Homo sapiens: one gene and its partners. The protein of the gene in region 2 purifies or fractionates together with the protein of the main gene of each other region. This does not show direct contact. Each region holds a gene or a part of one and is shown on either strand. Other genes may lie near its edges.

Region 1 (3,248 bases), on a different chromosome or scaffold from region 2:
AGAGAGGTCCTGTCCTGCCACCAGGTTTGCATGCCATATCCCTTGGGACCAGATATGAGCATTAAAGTGATAAAAGGAGACCTGGCTGAGCCAAACAGAGGAGGTTATGTTCTGTCCCCGGCAGCTCAGTAGTCTCTGAGTATCCCCTCACCCGAGGCCACCTTCTTCTCCCCTCTGCCCACCACAGCCCCTTGCCTCCCTTCACACTCTCCTTCCTCCTGTCGTCTTCTCTCGCCACCACCAACCCCACAAGCCTCTCCCTCCCAAATCCTCCAAACTCCTCCCCAGGCTGAAAGCCAGTTCTCAGCCTCCCTGCCTGGAGCTGGCAAGCCTGAGCTTCCTAGAGGGGTACCTCCTGAGAGAAAGGTAGGCGGGATTGCTGAAGGCCTTGTTGGGAAGTGTGGTTCCAGGACTGCTGGGCCCCACCCCAGCCTCAGAACTTTCTTTCTCAGAACGGACACATTTTGGCTTTGGTCCTACTAGTCCTCCCACCCCCGACTTCACCCCAAACAGCCTACAGGAACCCATTGCCATCCGGGGGACCGCCCCTATCAGAATGACATCAGCAATGGCTGGTGTAATCAAAGCCCATTTGTCAGTGTGAATTCTTAGCAGATTAACTTGTCAGATTCACAGAGAAACCGTCACTAAATGTTTATGTGTAAACGATGTTGAATTTTAAAATCATGTGGATTATGGCGGATGGGGCCTGACAAGATGACAGTCTCTGGTTTCTAACAAAGTGAAGTTACCAGTGTCAAAACAGAGGATGTTTATTGTGAAAAATGTCAAAGTATCCACAGAAACCCCTGCAGACCCCTGCCAGCAATGTCGGGCCTTGGTTAGCTGACCTAAGGCCTGGGACGCTCCTGGTTTGAGGCCCAGGGCAGGAATAGTGGGGCTGCTACAGACGCAGCCAGTCAGCTGGGAGCCCCACACAGCCCTGCATACCACCACCCCAGCCACACTTATCTGCAGAGGGGCCTGGCCCAGGCAGCTGAGTAGTCTCTGAGTATCCCCTCACCCGAGGCCACCTTCCTTTCCCCTCTGCCCACAGCCCCTTGCCTCCCTTCACACTCTCCTTCCTCCTGTCCTCTTCTCTCGCCACCACCAACCCCACAAACCTCTCCCTCCCGAATCCTCCAAACTCCTCCCCAGGCTGAAAGCCAGTTCTCAGCCTCCCTGCCTGGAGCTGGCAAGCCTGAGACTGCTCAGGTCCGACATGGATATTTGCAGCCCCCCACCCCCGCCAGCCCACGCAGTCAGTGAGCACAGCAGGACACTTCCTGTGCCTTGCTGTCTGCCGGACCTGGACCTCTGTCAGGAAATGCCCAGCCTGGGACTGACGAGTAGACCTGCCACCCAAGCAGGCCTGTCAGGGTAGGGATGTCACTTGTGTGAGTGCTTGTCCCTGGCTTAAATTCTCTCCAATGTGTTAAAGATTAGGGAGTTAGGGAAAGAGAGGTAGTGGAGAGACTGTGCTTAAAAAAAAAAAAAGTCATCTAAAAAGAATGAAAGATATCTGTGCCACTATAGCAAGACCTTTTAAGTATATACTCTGAAAGTGTGGCTAATATGATCATGATGCTGTAGGAAAAAAAGGTTATATGTCCAAGTGTATGTACTTGTAAATGTGCCTAAAGAAACCTGGAAGGATACACAGGTCTTCCCTGGGGTACAAGACGGAGAACTGGGATCATCATCTTAACTCTACTCTTCCTTTTTACTCTTCTGTCCTCTTAGAGACTTTCGCCTGTATACATGGATTACTGTTACTTAGCAGGGGCGACCGGTTGGCCAAAGCCTTGGTGTGCCCTTGGCACAATTCTGCCAAGACCCTTACCCTCTCCTCTCCTCAGGGCTCCCTTAACCCCTCTCCCCACATCTGGAAAACCCTGGATACATTTTCTGTTCCATCTTTAGTTTTCTGCCTCTGGATGCGTAAAGCTTCAACCTGCTGGCTTTTAGAGGGAGAGGACTTGTTAAAAAAAAAAAAGTGGGGTGTGGGGAGAGCGGTGTTGTGATCTGGGGGCCAGCCATGTGGTAAAAAGGAGTAGAGGTCAAGGGGCTGCTTCTATTCCCTCAGTTTAGGGTCCTGGGAGGCTGACGGGTTTGGGCAGCTTTTGGGAACTAGGCAGAAGAGAGTCCTGTATGGGAGGCCGGAGTCAAGGCAGAAGCCCAGTGCAGCCCTCTCTAGGCCAGCAGGGGAGGGTCCCCGGGGCTGAGAGCCCGGACGGAGGAAAGGACTGGTAGAAGAGCCAAGACACGGCTAGCGTGGCACCCCCTCCCCAGGACCACATTCTCCAGGGTGAGAAGAGCAGCCAGCCCTCTGCCTCCTGTCCTCAGTGACAGCCTTCTGCTCTCTCATGCCCACAGAGGAGCCAATCCGGCTACTGCGGGAGGTGGTGCTGTTGACGGATGACCGGAACCTGCGTGTGAAGGCGCTCACAAGGAATGTTCCTGTACGGGACATCCCAGCCTTCCTCACGTGGGCCCAGGTGGGCTGAGGGAGCCACACTGGGGCCCCCCCCCCGTGGAACCGTTCCTGAAAGGCCACCAGGCGCCCAGTGTAGCACGGAAGATGCCCACGTGCCTGAGCCACCAATCCACCCAGACAATAAACCATCCTCTTCCAACCCACGCCACGGCCATGCTGTGGGGGACCTGCTCCTCACAGAGCCCCTCCCAAGGATCGGGCGGAAGCTGCTGGGACCCTCCTGGGCTGCCAGGATTTAGCAGGGAGGTGGCTGGCTACAGCAACAGCAGCTGGGCAAGCCAGATAGGCCGCCCATGCTCTCAGCCTTTCTCCCTCCCCCGTCTCATTCCAAGGCTGAGGGAGGGCCTTCTCGCCTGGGGACGCAGCCACTTTCTCCAGTGGAGACAGGGCAGGGGTTCTGAGTTTCCGTCAGATGCAGTGAAATCACAGTTCCCTTTCATCTTCAGAACCTCTGTCGTGAATGTGTTCAAGAGGCTTTGGTTAAGTCAGGAAGAAGTGCCCAGGGTGTGTGTCCCCAGTCTCCCTGAGGCCTGGACTCGCCCATGAACCCAAGTCGGCTTCTAGACAGCATGTCCCTAACAGCAGCCCTGGGCCCCCACCTCTTCTACCATCCACCCCAGACTTACCACACACCCTTCCTGCTGCTCCTCTTCCTGCCCTTATCAACCTGGGTCCCTCACACTTCGCCAGTTGCGTCCCCGTGGACAGTCATGAGTCTAGAGGAAAGGGGCATCTGGTCTCAGGCCCGTGC
Region 2 (3,928 bases):
CCTGTAGTCTCAGCTACACAAGAGAGACTGCGGTGAGAAGATCGCTTCAGCCCGGAGGCAGAGGTTACAGTGAGCAGAGATTGCGCCACTGCACTCTGGCCTGGGCGATAGAGCAAGACCCTTCCTGACTCAAAAAAAAAAAAAAAAAGAAAAAAAGAAATACCTCTGCCCTGGTTTTACTCGTTTATCTACACAACATTAGAGAAGAAGCTACTGAAAACACAACGGAGCTCTTCCAACTTTCTCAGTGCTCTTTCCTACCACCCTCCATTCAGATCAAATGCAAAAGCAGAAGGAACAGCCATGTTAACCCTTCATTTCTTCTAAGATCCAAATGAGGGCTTCATATGATCACTGTCTTTAGATACGCTGGGATTCATACGTCCATCACCCAAAGGACAAGTCTAACTCAGTGTTCTATTCCTTTTTTGGTTCTTTTCTTTGCAAGGGAAGTGAAAAGTAGGCAAATGTTAGTGAGTGTCCTGTAGAAATAACTCAACTGAGATTTAACCCCATTGCGCACTCCAAAATGGCTAAGGTGCTTAAAAATGGCTTTCAGCGTGAAAATTCTATTCCTGCATCCTTGTTTTCACCATTAAAGACAAAACACTGCTGGCCAGGCGCGGTGGCTCACGCCTGTAATCCCAGCACTTTGGGAGGCCGAGGCGGGTGGATCACAAGGTCAAGAGATCGAGACCATCCTGGCCAACATGTTAAAACCCCGTCTCTACTAAAAACACAAAAAATTAGCTGGGCATGGTGGCACACGCCTGCAGTCCTAGCTACTCGGGAGGCTGAGGCAGGAGAATTGCTTGAACCCAGGAGGCAGAGGCTGCAGTAAGTTGAGACTGCGCCACTGCACTCCAGCCTGGGCGACAGAGCGAGACTCTGTATCAAAAAAAAAAAAAATACTGCTTCATGTATTAACAATATGCTTTTCAAGCTTTATCAAAATTATTATGTAATAATGACTGATGCTTATACAGCCAAAGACCTGAAACAAATAATTCAGTTTATTTGAAAAAGAAAATAGGCCAGGCACAGTGGCTCACGTCCGTAATCCTAATACTTTGGGAGGCTAAGGCAGGAAGATTACCTGAGGCCAGGAATTTGAGACCAGCCTGGGCAACATAGTGAGACTCCTCTCTACAAAAAATTTTAAAATTAGCCAGGCATGACCTATAATCCTAGTTACTCAGGAAGCTGAGGCAGGAGAATCAGTCAACCCCAGGAGGTTGAGGTTGCAGTGAGCTATGACTGCACCACCACACTTCAGCGTGGGCAAGAGCGAGACTCTGCTTCTATTAAAAAAAAAAAAAAGAAGAAGAAGAAGAAGAAAATAAATTTACACCTATCACAAGAAGTCTGACAAGTAAGTACCACTAAAATTGTCACCCTTCATGGACAGACATGAGGATTTACATGCTTCTGAGACGCAGGAGTAGTACACCTAGTGTTATCACACGGGCCTTTCTGGCACAAAACTTGTACCAACGAGTTTCTCCCATTCTCAAAAGTTTCAGTTAAAAATATGTAACTTCATAATTAATGTTTTAGGAACTTAATTTATAGTAAGTCAATAAAACAAGCTATAAGAACAGATATATAATAATTTCCACTTCAAAGGAACTCTTCATGGCTATGTTTCCCTGGTAAGAGTTTCTTCTAGCATCATTAGTTATTACACAAGTTTCTGCTCATATTCAAAGAAAAAAGAGCTTACCTCAATCCCTCAGCCCCAACTTAGTTAGACGCATGGCCTCATACTAGGAAATAATCACCCCATTTTTTTTTTTTGAGATAGGGTCTGTCTCTGTCACCCAGGCTGGAGTGTAGTGATATGGCATGATCTCAGCTCACTGCAGCCTCCAACTCCCAGGCTTAAGTGATCCTCCCACCTCAGCCTCCTAAGTAGCTGAGACTATAGGCATGTGTACTAACCGGCTAATTTCTGTATTTTTTTATTTATTTATTTTTGGTAGAGACAGGGCCTCATCATGTTGCTCAGGCTAATCACCCTAATTTTAATAATAAAACTATCTCCTAGGCTTCTTTCACCTCTGTATTTCTTGTATTAAGGAAAGAATACAGTGCCAGAATGTAGCCAATGGCTAGCAACTGGCGATTCTGGGTAAAGGTATTCAGGAATTAATTATCCTCTTATTTTAAGTTTTATGCAGGTTTGAAAGTTTTTAAAACAAAAAGATAGCAAAAATAAACTGTAAAAAATATACACTACATTCATGAGAAGACACTGTCATTAAGAAGCTTCTGGTAATCCCAAACAGATCCTGTTTTTATACAGGTACTGATGACAACACAATGATTACACAGGTTAGTCACACAGAGTGACAATGAGACAAAGGCCCTGTGGCAAAGCTGTGCTTCAACTCAGTCTGCTGTTTTAAGTAGCACCCTAAAGACGTAGCCACCCCCAAATGTGTGTTTCTGGTCAGAAGGAAGAATGGAGAGGTGAATCCAGAAGGAGAGCGGTATGCACGCTGCATTAGAAAGACAGTGGCCTCGGCCATGGACCAGACTAGGGCCCCAGATGCACACATCCTAGCTGTGACCTCTGAGTGAGAAGTCGCACGCAGGCTGGTAACATGTCTAGCATAATAGTGGCAGCTAGTGTTATCAGGACAATGATGATGAGACAAATCAGTAGTGTCACTTCCAGATAATGAAAATCATGTAAAATTCCATGCAGAGTATAGATTATATTTAATTAAGAGTACTCCAAATCTCTAGAAACAGGCAACAAAACATATCCTGATCTTGGAACTGGACAGTCCTAGACTACAGAATATGATTTCAAAGGCTCTGTAGTATCATTTAGGGAAAGGAAATCATCCTGACTACCCAGGAACAAAGGTGAAAAGGTAAATGACCCCTGCCCACTTTCCATGGCACTAAGAACCACCTTCAGTGAGATGCTCAAACCCAAGAAGGCACATCTAGCATCTTCTTTTACGGTAGCTTCACCTTCTGGATAGAGCCACAGCAGCTGACCGCTTTGCATGTTTTAAAAACAACCCTTTGATTCTACAATCACAGATTTTTAGCTTCGAATCACAGTAAGTCAAAGTACTCATTAAACTATTTATAGTCACTACAGAAGCAACTTGCATGGCATTCTACCAGCAAATGTCTGTTTCTATGCTGCTGAATCAAGTGCATTGGAGACTGCTGTTAAGGGTTTTAAAGGCAGGCAAACCCACCTTGTAGTAGTCATAGAGCAGGCCCAGCGCAGCGGCGCTGTCTTCATCTCCATTGATGCTCATCATCGCTTTGGTCGCTGCAGTGAGAGGGTTTTCCAGGAAGGATTTCCAGGCCTCATCCTCACTAGTGTAGGACCGCCGCTGTGGATAAAGTGCTTCATTCTGAAGAACCAACACTGGCCGTTTGCTTCAGAGAAATTAAAAAAAAAACAAAAACACACACTTTTCTACTGCAAGGTATCATAAGCTACCAATTCCTTGACATTCCTATAAAATAGCCTATTGTTTCATCAATGACCCTAGGAAGTCAAATTAAGACAAGACCAGAAGACAAACCACGTAAGTGCAGACCAATGGGTCCCACAGTAAGACATAAAGTATCTAGGCAGCCAGAGAACTGGCAGTTCACCTACACGTGGAACCCAGGGTATACTATTTGGCAAAAAAGCGAAACAAAACCATCCCCGAGAAAATGCCAGGCTATTCAAATACTTTCCATAAACAAACACAAGGACACAGTAAAGAAAAGAGAATACTTGTTCTCTTCCAACACACAATCAGGACTGTCCCCTCTTGAGAAGAGCGTGTGCCGTTCATCACACTGCTACATGTTATTCCCTCTTTCTACTGTGGCTGCCATGCCTTAAAAATTCCTACCTGAACACAGTGGGGAGGGGAGAAGCAGCAGAAAGAAAAAGGGATCCTTC
Region 3 (3,928 bases), on a different chromosome or scaffold from region 2:
TTTTTTTTTTTTTTGAGGAGTTTCGCTCTTGTTGCCCAGGCTGGTGTGCAGTGGCGCGATCTCGGCTCACTGCAACCTCCACCTCCTGGGTTCAAGCAATTCTCCTGCCTCAGCCTCCCAAGTAGCTGGAACTACAGGTGTGCACCACCAGACCCAGCTAATTTTTGTATTTTTTTTTTAGTACAGACGGGGTTTCACCATGTTGGCCAGCATGGTCTCAATCTCTTGACCTTGTGATCCACCCGCCTCGGCCTCCCAAAGTGCTGGGATTACAGGTGTGAACCACCGTGCCCAGCCCATCTTTTTTGAGAGACAGAGTCTCACACTGCCACCCAGGCTGGAGTGCAGTGGCATGATCTTGGCTCACTGCAACCTCTGCCAAAACCAACTTCTACCCAGTTTCTGAGTATTATAAGTTCAGGCTGATGGCTATATATAATCCATGTTTTGAATTTTTACAATCGTCCTATTTCCCTAATGATTTTATTTTATTTTTTATTTTTATAATAAGACTGAGTCTTGCTATATTGCCCAGGCTGGTCTCAAACTCCTAGGTTCAAGCCATCTTCCTGCCTCAACATCCCAAAGCACTGGGCTTACAGGTGTGAGCCATCACATCTAGCCCCAAATGATCTGTAATTTTTTTTCTTTGTTTTTTTGAGACCGAGTCTCACTCTGTCACCCAGGCTGGAGTACAGTGGCATGATCTCGGCTCACTGCAACCTCTGCCCCCCCGGGCTCAAACGATTCTCCTGCCTCAGCTTCCTGAGTAGCTGGGATTACAGGCACCCACCACCACGCCTGGCTAATTTTTGTATTTTTAGTAGAGACAGGGGTTTCACCATGTTGGCCAGGCTAGTCTTGAACTCCTGACCTCAGGTGATCCACCCGCCTTGGCCTCCTAAAATGCTGGGATTACAGGTGTGAGCCACCACACCCGGCCAGTTTTTTGTATTTTGAATAGAGACAGGGTTTCACCATGTTGACCAGGCTGGCTTGGAACTCCTGACCTCAGGTGATCTGCCCACCTTGGCCCCTCAAAGTGCTGGGATTACAGGCATGAGCTACTGCTCAGGGCCTTAAAGATTTTTTTTTCCATTAAAATGAGCTGTGTAGCTGGGCATGGTGGTGTGTGCCTGTAGTCCCAGCACTTTGGGAGGCTGAGGCAGGAGGACTGCTTGAAGCTAGGAGTTCAAGACCAGCTTAGGCAACAAAGCGAGACTCCATCCTAAAGAAAAAAAGCTATTGGCTGGGCATGGTGGCTCGCGCCTGCAATCCTAGCACTTTAGGAGGCTGAAGCAGGAGGATCACTTGAGGCCAGGAGTTTGAGACCAGCCCAGGCAACATAGTGAGACCTTGTCTCTACAAAAAAAAAAAAAAAAAAAATTAGCCAGGTGTGATGGGGCACACCTGTAGTCCCAGCTACATGGGAGGCTGAGGTGGGAGGATTGCCTGAGCCCAAGAGTTCAAGGCTACAGTGAGCTACGATCATATCATGGTATTCCAGCATGGACAACCAAGTGAGACCCTGCCTTTGAAAAACAAAACAAAACAAAGCTGGGGCAATATCCTTTGAGGACATGAACACGGAATGGGACTGCTGCGAGTCCCAACTCTCCTGCATGACCTTACGGTACACCCAGCAAGAAAGGGCCAGCACCACAATAGTCAGGCCCAAGCTTGCAATGGCACCACCTTCCACTCAGGGCCCCCAGAACCTGAAGCTCCAGCCAAGTATTCTGTGAGTCCCTGAGGTAGCTGAATCATTTCAGGGCAATGATGACCCCTAGACCTGGAGAGCTGTGCAGGTCACCAGCCTTCAAGGTACAACTGGCTTTAAGCTGGATCTTTTGGGAAGCTTACCCCCTAGAGTCACAGTCTATCATGTTGTCAAAGTAGGTTTTCACAGACTACTTCTGCAGAGAGACTCCCAACCTCCTAGACCACGAGGCAATGCTGTTATTCTCTCCAGCCCCAGCCATCCCTCTCTATAGCGCCACCAACTGTACTTCTAAACAACCCACAGGCCTAGTGTCTCCCATTTTCAAAATCTCTTTCCAAGGCATACTGTTCCACTGAGGGGGCTGAGCCCCGAGGGAAGAAAAAAGGCCTACCAATGGCTGATTCCTACTCTCCTCAGCATCAGGCTCTGGATTCTACAGAAAAGGTTTCTAGGCCAGGCAGCAAATTTCCTAAATGCACCAGGTCTCTTAAAGGTTGGCCTGATAGCTGTAGATTGGATTCTTTCTCATAGAGAAAGATGCTTGGAACACAGGCAGGACTCAACCCACATAGAAACCACCTGCAAAAGAGGAGCTTCCACAACTCTGAGTCCTAGAAACATAATTCCTGACACAAATTCCATGATAGTAAGCTAGTAGAAATCCACTTACTTTCTTTTGGAGCAGGAATTTTGGAGTTGACGGATCTCCGTTTTTGTTTCTGAAAAACAAATCAAATTGTCACAATATATGGCTCTTATCAATTCTCAAGGGCCCATCCTGGGCCCATGTACTATGCTAAAATGCCAGACAATCAATCAGCAAAGAGTCAATAAGCAAAGTGAATTCTCTGGCGCACTGGCTGCAGCCAGATGACAGGCACCTACCTGGATTGTTACATTTTCCTGCAAGGGCAGATTGTCCTTCGGATGTAAGGGAAGAAGCTGTAAGAGTTCTGGGTTTATTGCAGCCACATCATCAAAATCAATCTGCAAGGAGCAAGTAAAAGTTTCAATGAAACAACATTGTTCAATCCAAATACATTTTTTCTTTTTTTTTTTTTTTGAGACAGAGTATCGCTCTGTCGCCCAGGCTGGAGGGCAGTGGTGCGATCTTGGTTCAATGCAACCTCTGCCTCCTGGGTCCAAGCAATTCTCCTGCCTCAGCCTCCTGAGTAGCTGGGACTACAGGCATGCGCCACCACGCCCAGCTAATTTTTGTATTTCCAGTAGAGACAGGGTTTCACCATGTTGGCCAGGATGGTCTCAAACTCCTGGCCTCAGGTGATCTCCCCACCTCGGCCTCCTAAAGTGCTGGGATTACAGGTGTGAGCCACTGTGCCTGGCCCCCCCGAGGCTGAGGCGGGAGAATTGCTGGAATCCAGGAGGCGGAGGTTGCATTGAGCTGAGATTGAGCCACTGCCCTCCAGCCTGGGCAACAGAGCAAGACTCTGTCTCAAAAAACAAAAAACAAACAAACAAACAAAAAAACAACATAGAAAAAATTAAATTTCTATAGACAGGGGTACCCCTAAATTCAAACTTTACCAACTTTAAGTTCCACTAAGTATGAATAGCTATAAAACAAATAGTTACTCCTTAATAATGGTTTACCATCTAGATGGATATGGGTTTCTGATTTCCAAGCCAATGGTAGACGTCAGTGATGAGAATGAGGTGAAGAGGAGGGCAGACAGGCAGGCAAACAGTCGGGTACTCCACAGCAGATCTAGGCCACTTGGCTCCCCTGCTGATCTGCTGGGCAGTGAGGTCCTGCTGGGCACAGCCCCCCAAGCACCTCTTGATGGCTGACACGGAGGAGGAAACAAGTTCTAACTGTCTGGTGAGAGTCAAATGGGGGCCCTTTAGGATCTTATGGGCAGGGGCAAGTTCCTGACAGCTGCTACCTAACCCTAAGACTACCTACATTTTCTTCTGGGCCCAGAAACTTCCCCAGTTACGGCTTCCTGCCCATGCCTTACCTATTTCCTGTTGATGCCTGCAATGAGGTCACAATTCTAAGTTTACATCATCAGAGTCCTGCAATTCTCCAGGAACAACTCAAACTTCACCAGGATAGCTTTACAACAGGTTCAGACATATTAAATTTGTCCCAACTTTGTATTTCAAAATGTGACAGAGCTGAAGCATGTACTCTAGGGTGAGGGCTTTACTGCCTAGAGATGAAACCTGCAGGACTGGGTGCGG
Region 4 (3,928 bases), on a different chromosome or scaffold from region 2:
CAACTCAATAATCCGAACAATCTAAAGTTTGCCCACACTTGTGGTTTATATTGGGACCCACAGGAGGGTAGGAAAATACCTACACTGCTTTTCAAGGTTAATACACTTTCAAAGAAACTTAGCAGTAAGAAACCATGTGAGCATTCTATACAAATTATAAATTATTAATAAGGTATGGTGGTTAAGACATGAACTCTGGAGCAAAGGAAAGAAGAAAGATAAAAGGCAAATCTAAGAGACTTAAGGTAGAAATCATGTAATATAATGTATGAATGTTTATGAAGTTATCAAGGAAATTTGAACACTACGATATTTAGTAAAAAAATTAACAGTAATTTATTAATATTAGGTGTGATAATAGCACGGTAGTTACATTTTCAAAAAGACACCTTATCTTTTAGAGATCCCTATGGAAATTTATGAATAAACTTATGTCTAGAATCTGTTTCAAAATAATCCAGGTGTAGGTCAAGTCGCTGGAGGCATGGATATAACACTGTCCATCAGCTGACACTGAAGCGAAATGGTAGGAGTTCATTTTACCATTTTTTCTGCTCTTATACATGTTTGACATTTTCCATAGTAAAAAAAAAAAAATTTTTTTTTTTTTTTTTTTTTTGAGAGAGTCTTCCTCTATTGCCCAGGCTGGAGTGCAGTGGTGTGATCTCAATTCGCTACAAACACTGCCTCCTGGGTTCAAGCAATTCTCATGACTCAGCCTCCTGAGTAGCTGGGACTACAGACACGCATTACTAGACCCGGCTACTTTTTGCATTTTGTGTAGAGACAGGGTTTCACCATGTTCCCAGGCTGGTCTTGAACTCTTGACTTCAAATGATCCACCCACCTCAGCCTCCCAAAGGCCTGGGATTACAGGCGTGAGCCACTGCATCCAGCCCAAAAATCAATTTTTAAAAAATATTATCTAGCCGGGCACGGTGGCTCACGCCTGTAATCCCAGCACTTTGGGAGGCTGAAGTGGGCAGATCACGAGGTCAGGAGTTCGAGACCAGCCTGGCCAATATGGTGAAACCCCATCTCTACTACAAATACAAAAATTAGCTGGGCGTGGTGGCGCGTGCCTGTAGTCCCAGCTACTCAGGAGGCTGAGGCAGGAGAATCGCTTGAACCCGGGAGGCGAAGGTTGCAGTGAGCCAGGATCGTGTCACTGTACTCTAGCCGGGGCAACAGAGTGAGACGCTGTCTCAAAAAAAAAAAAAAAAAAAAAAAATCTAATTTGGGCATATCTCAGAAGTTCATAAACACAGAAACATTAATATAGTAAAATTTAGTTTATTGCCATGTATTTATTTTAAAAAGCTTTCTTAGTATTTATGTCCATAAAAGCAAACAAAAGCACAAAATTCACAATGTCTAATTTTAGCAATTTACTCAAGAAGTGAAAAAAGCACCATCTATCTCATTTAAAGACATATTTCCAATATAATTTAAATACATTAAAATTGTTTTGATCAATTAGGTACTAAAAACAACTTTAATGATAAGTCAATTGAGAAGAATTTGTCATAGAATTCTTTTAAATATTTTAAAGTTTCTTTTATGCATGCATTTTTGTTACAAACAGGGTAATAAAAAGTTCTTAACTATACCATATACTATTAAGATACACTTCTGAGGGGAAAATAAAAACAGTAAAACAAGTTCAAAGAAAAAAGAATAATGGAAAATTTCCAAATGCTGAACTGGTATTTTTTTACAGGATAGTAGGTATCACATTGCTATGCTATTTAGATTCCATTGATACATTTAAAAATAACACAATTTTGTATTGAAAAAAATTTCTTAATGTCGCTTGCAGACATCCAGAGGGGTATATTATTTTCAAAATTCTTATAGCATTTTCAAAAGTTTAAAAACTCTTTCCTAAGGGATATCTTCTTAATCTTCTTTAACCTTTACGTGTACATCTTTTCTATGTTGTACTGTATTTTGTTTAAAGAGAATATTAGGCCGGGCATAATGGCTCATGCCTGTAATTCCAGTATTTGGGGAGGCTAAGGTGGGAGGATCATTTGAGCCCAGCAGTTTGAGACCAGCCTGGGCAACATGGTGAAACCTCATCTCTACAAAAAAATTGACAAATTAGCCAGGCATGATGGTGTACACCTGTTGTCCCAGCTACTTGGGAGAAGGCTGAGGTGGGAAGATCACCTGAGCCTGGGGAGGTAGAGGCTGCAGTAAGCTGTGATCACACCATTGCACTCCAGCCTGGTTGACAGAGGGAGACCCTGTCTCAAAACAAAAACAAAAAAAGAGAAAATTAAAAACTTCTTGGCTGGGCACAGTGGCTCATGCCTGTAATCTCACAACTTTGGGAGGCCGAGGTGGATGGATCACCTGAGGTCAGGAGTTCAAGACCAGCCTGACCAACATGGTGAAACCCCGCCTCTACGAAAATTACAAAAATTAGCCAGGTGGTGTGGCACGCACCTATAATCCTAGCTACTCAGGAGGCTGAGGCAGGAGAATCACTTGAATCCAGGAGACAGAGGTTGCAATGAGCCGAGATTGTGCCATTGCACTCCAGCCTGGGTGACAGAGTGAGATTCTGGCTCAAAAAAAATAAAATTAAAAAAATCTTAATTTCAAATAGAAATTTCACATACTAAGTACCAAAGAGGTTCCGAATAAATCTGCACACTCACATTAGTGTAATTCTTATCTTGGCATACGCTTCTTCCTGGTTAGGGCTAGATCCTTCCAAAAGACAATACATTCAGAGTTTTTGTAATTCTCAACAATAAGTACTGGGATGGATAATTCAGTTTTAGGCTTTATTCAAAAGTTACTTGTGACTAAAACTGTAAGTATAAAAATAATTTTTTAAAGGAAGGGATAAATGTACAAACTCTTAGCAAGTAGAGAAATAAGAGTTATGGACATCTTCTAGTGAGTTGCCTTAACTCATAAGTACTGGTACTCTTAACCCTAGTTAGTTACAGTGTAGCCAAGCTTTTAAAAAAGAAAAGGAGAAAAAGAAAAAAACAGCTATTTTCACAAGCTTCTTACCAGCTATGATTGTTGTTGCTTGTCGCCTCACATTATTTTTATCCATGTATTCACCATAGTCTATTTTCCCTTCCAAATAAATTCGAGACCTGATATAAATAAAATGTACAGTTTTTAGTTGAGATCTTAATATGCTTTATAAGAGTCAGGTCAGGGTGGTACTGAGTATATGACAAGGATGAAATATATAATCATATATAAGCTAATTTTTGCTACCACTTCTCAAGGTTCAGGATTAGGAGTACTGAAACAGAGTGTCCAAACAGACTTGGTAACATCTAGGTAAAACAGACAATGTTTTCATCTGTCAGCTATTTCTCTTACGGAAGTTAAAAAATAAAACAAAACAGTTCAAAGGGAAATTTAGTGGCAACATTTAAATCTCTAGGAATAATTTCCAATGTATCATTTTCCTTGACCTTTGATTTTGGAGTCCCTAACAGACTTGATTTTCACTTATTTATCAATTATTTTCTATGACCTTAGAAACTTAGATGATTAAAATTCAAAATATGGATTTGTAGTTAGTTTAGTATAATATTACCCTGAGTTAATTACTAAGACTATTTCTACACTGTATCAGCTTAGTATACCACTTAGAGGTAATTACTAAGACTATTTCTACACTATCTAGAGGCTAAACTAGATAACAAACCTAATCGTGATTTTCAAGAGTGGAAAGATGACAATAGTACCAGTTTTGAGAGTCTACCACCACCAAAAAAGTACAACACAGAAAGATTAGTGAAACATCAGGTGCTCCCCACCCCACACACACACCCATCAATCAGTAAGTGGGAGTGCAGACACTTCCCTTGAAATACCTTATATGTGTTTGTGTGTGTATGTGCACATATTCATAAACATACATAAAGGGCAATGAAGATACATAGGAAGA

The links.
Region 1: the proteins of GRHL1 (region 2) and HIC1 purify together in Homo sapiens (co-immunoprecipitation; one large-scale study listed by IntAct). This does not show direct contact.
Region 3: the proteins of GRHL1 (region 2) and KIF2C purify together in Homo sapiens (co-immunoprecipitation; one large-scale study listed by IntAct). This does not show direct contact.
Region 4: the proteins of GRHL1 (region 2) and SSBP1 purify together in Homo sapiens (co-immunoprecipitation; one large-scale study listed by IntAct). This does not show direct contact.

What each region holds. Positions count from the first base shown.
Region 1 is NC_000017.11:2,060,751-2,063,998, reverse strand, and holds the end of HIC1 (hypermethylated in cancer 1 protein), read right to left. Parts: 3' UTR 2,508-3,248; coding exon of another isoform or gene 2,377-2,507; 3' UTR 758-2,376; downstream 1-757. Other genes in the region: SMG6 (telomerase-binding protein EST1A), read left to right, coding at 2,377-2,507. UniProt on the Homo sapiens protein: Transcriptional repressor. Recognizes and binds to the consensus sequence '5-[CG]NG[CG]GGGCA[CA]CC-3'. May act as a tumor suppressor. Involved in development of head, face, limbs and ventral body wall.
Region 2 is NC_000002.12:9,954,395-9,958,322, reverse strand, and holds part of GRHL1 (grainyhead-like protein 1 homolog), read right to left. Parts: intron 3,409-3,928; coding exon 3,222-3,408; intron 1-3,221. UniProt on the Homo sapiens protein: Transcription factor involved in epithelial development. Binds directly to the consensus DNA sequence 5'-AACCGGTT-3'.
Region 3 is NC_000001.11:44,746,166-44,750,093, reverse strand, and holds part of KIF2C (kinesin-like protein KIF2C), read right to left. Parts: intron 3,701-3,928; exon of another isoform or gene 3,338-3,700; coding exon of another isoform or gene 3,335-3,337; intron 2,711-3,334; coding exon 2,609-2,710; intron 2,443-2,608; coding exon 2,394-2,442; intron 1-2,393. UniProt on the Homo sapiens protein: In complex with KIF18B, constitutes the major microtubule plus-end depolymerizing activity in mitotic cells. Regulates the turnover of microtubules at the kinetochore and functions in chromosome segregation during mitosis.
Region 4 is NC_000007.14:141,744,687-141,748,614, reverse strand, and holds part of SSBP1 (single-stranded DNA-binding protein, mitochondrial precursor), read right to left. Parts: intron 3,120-3,928; coding exon 3,031-3,119; coding exon of another isoform or gene 2,954-3,030; exon of another isoform or gene 1,278-2,953; intron 1-1,277.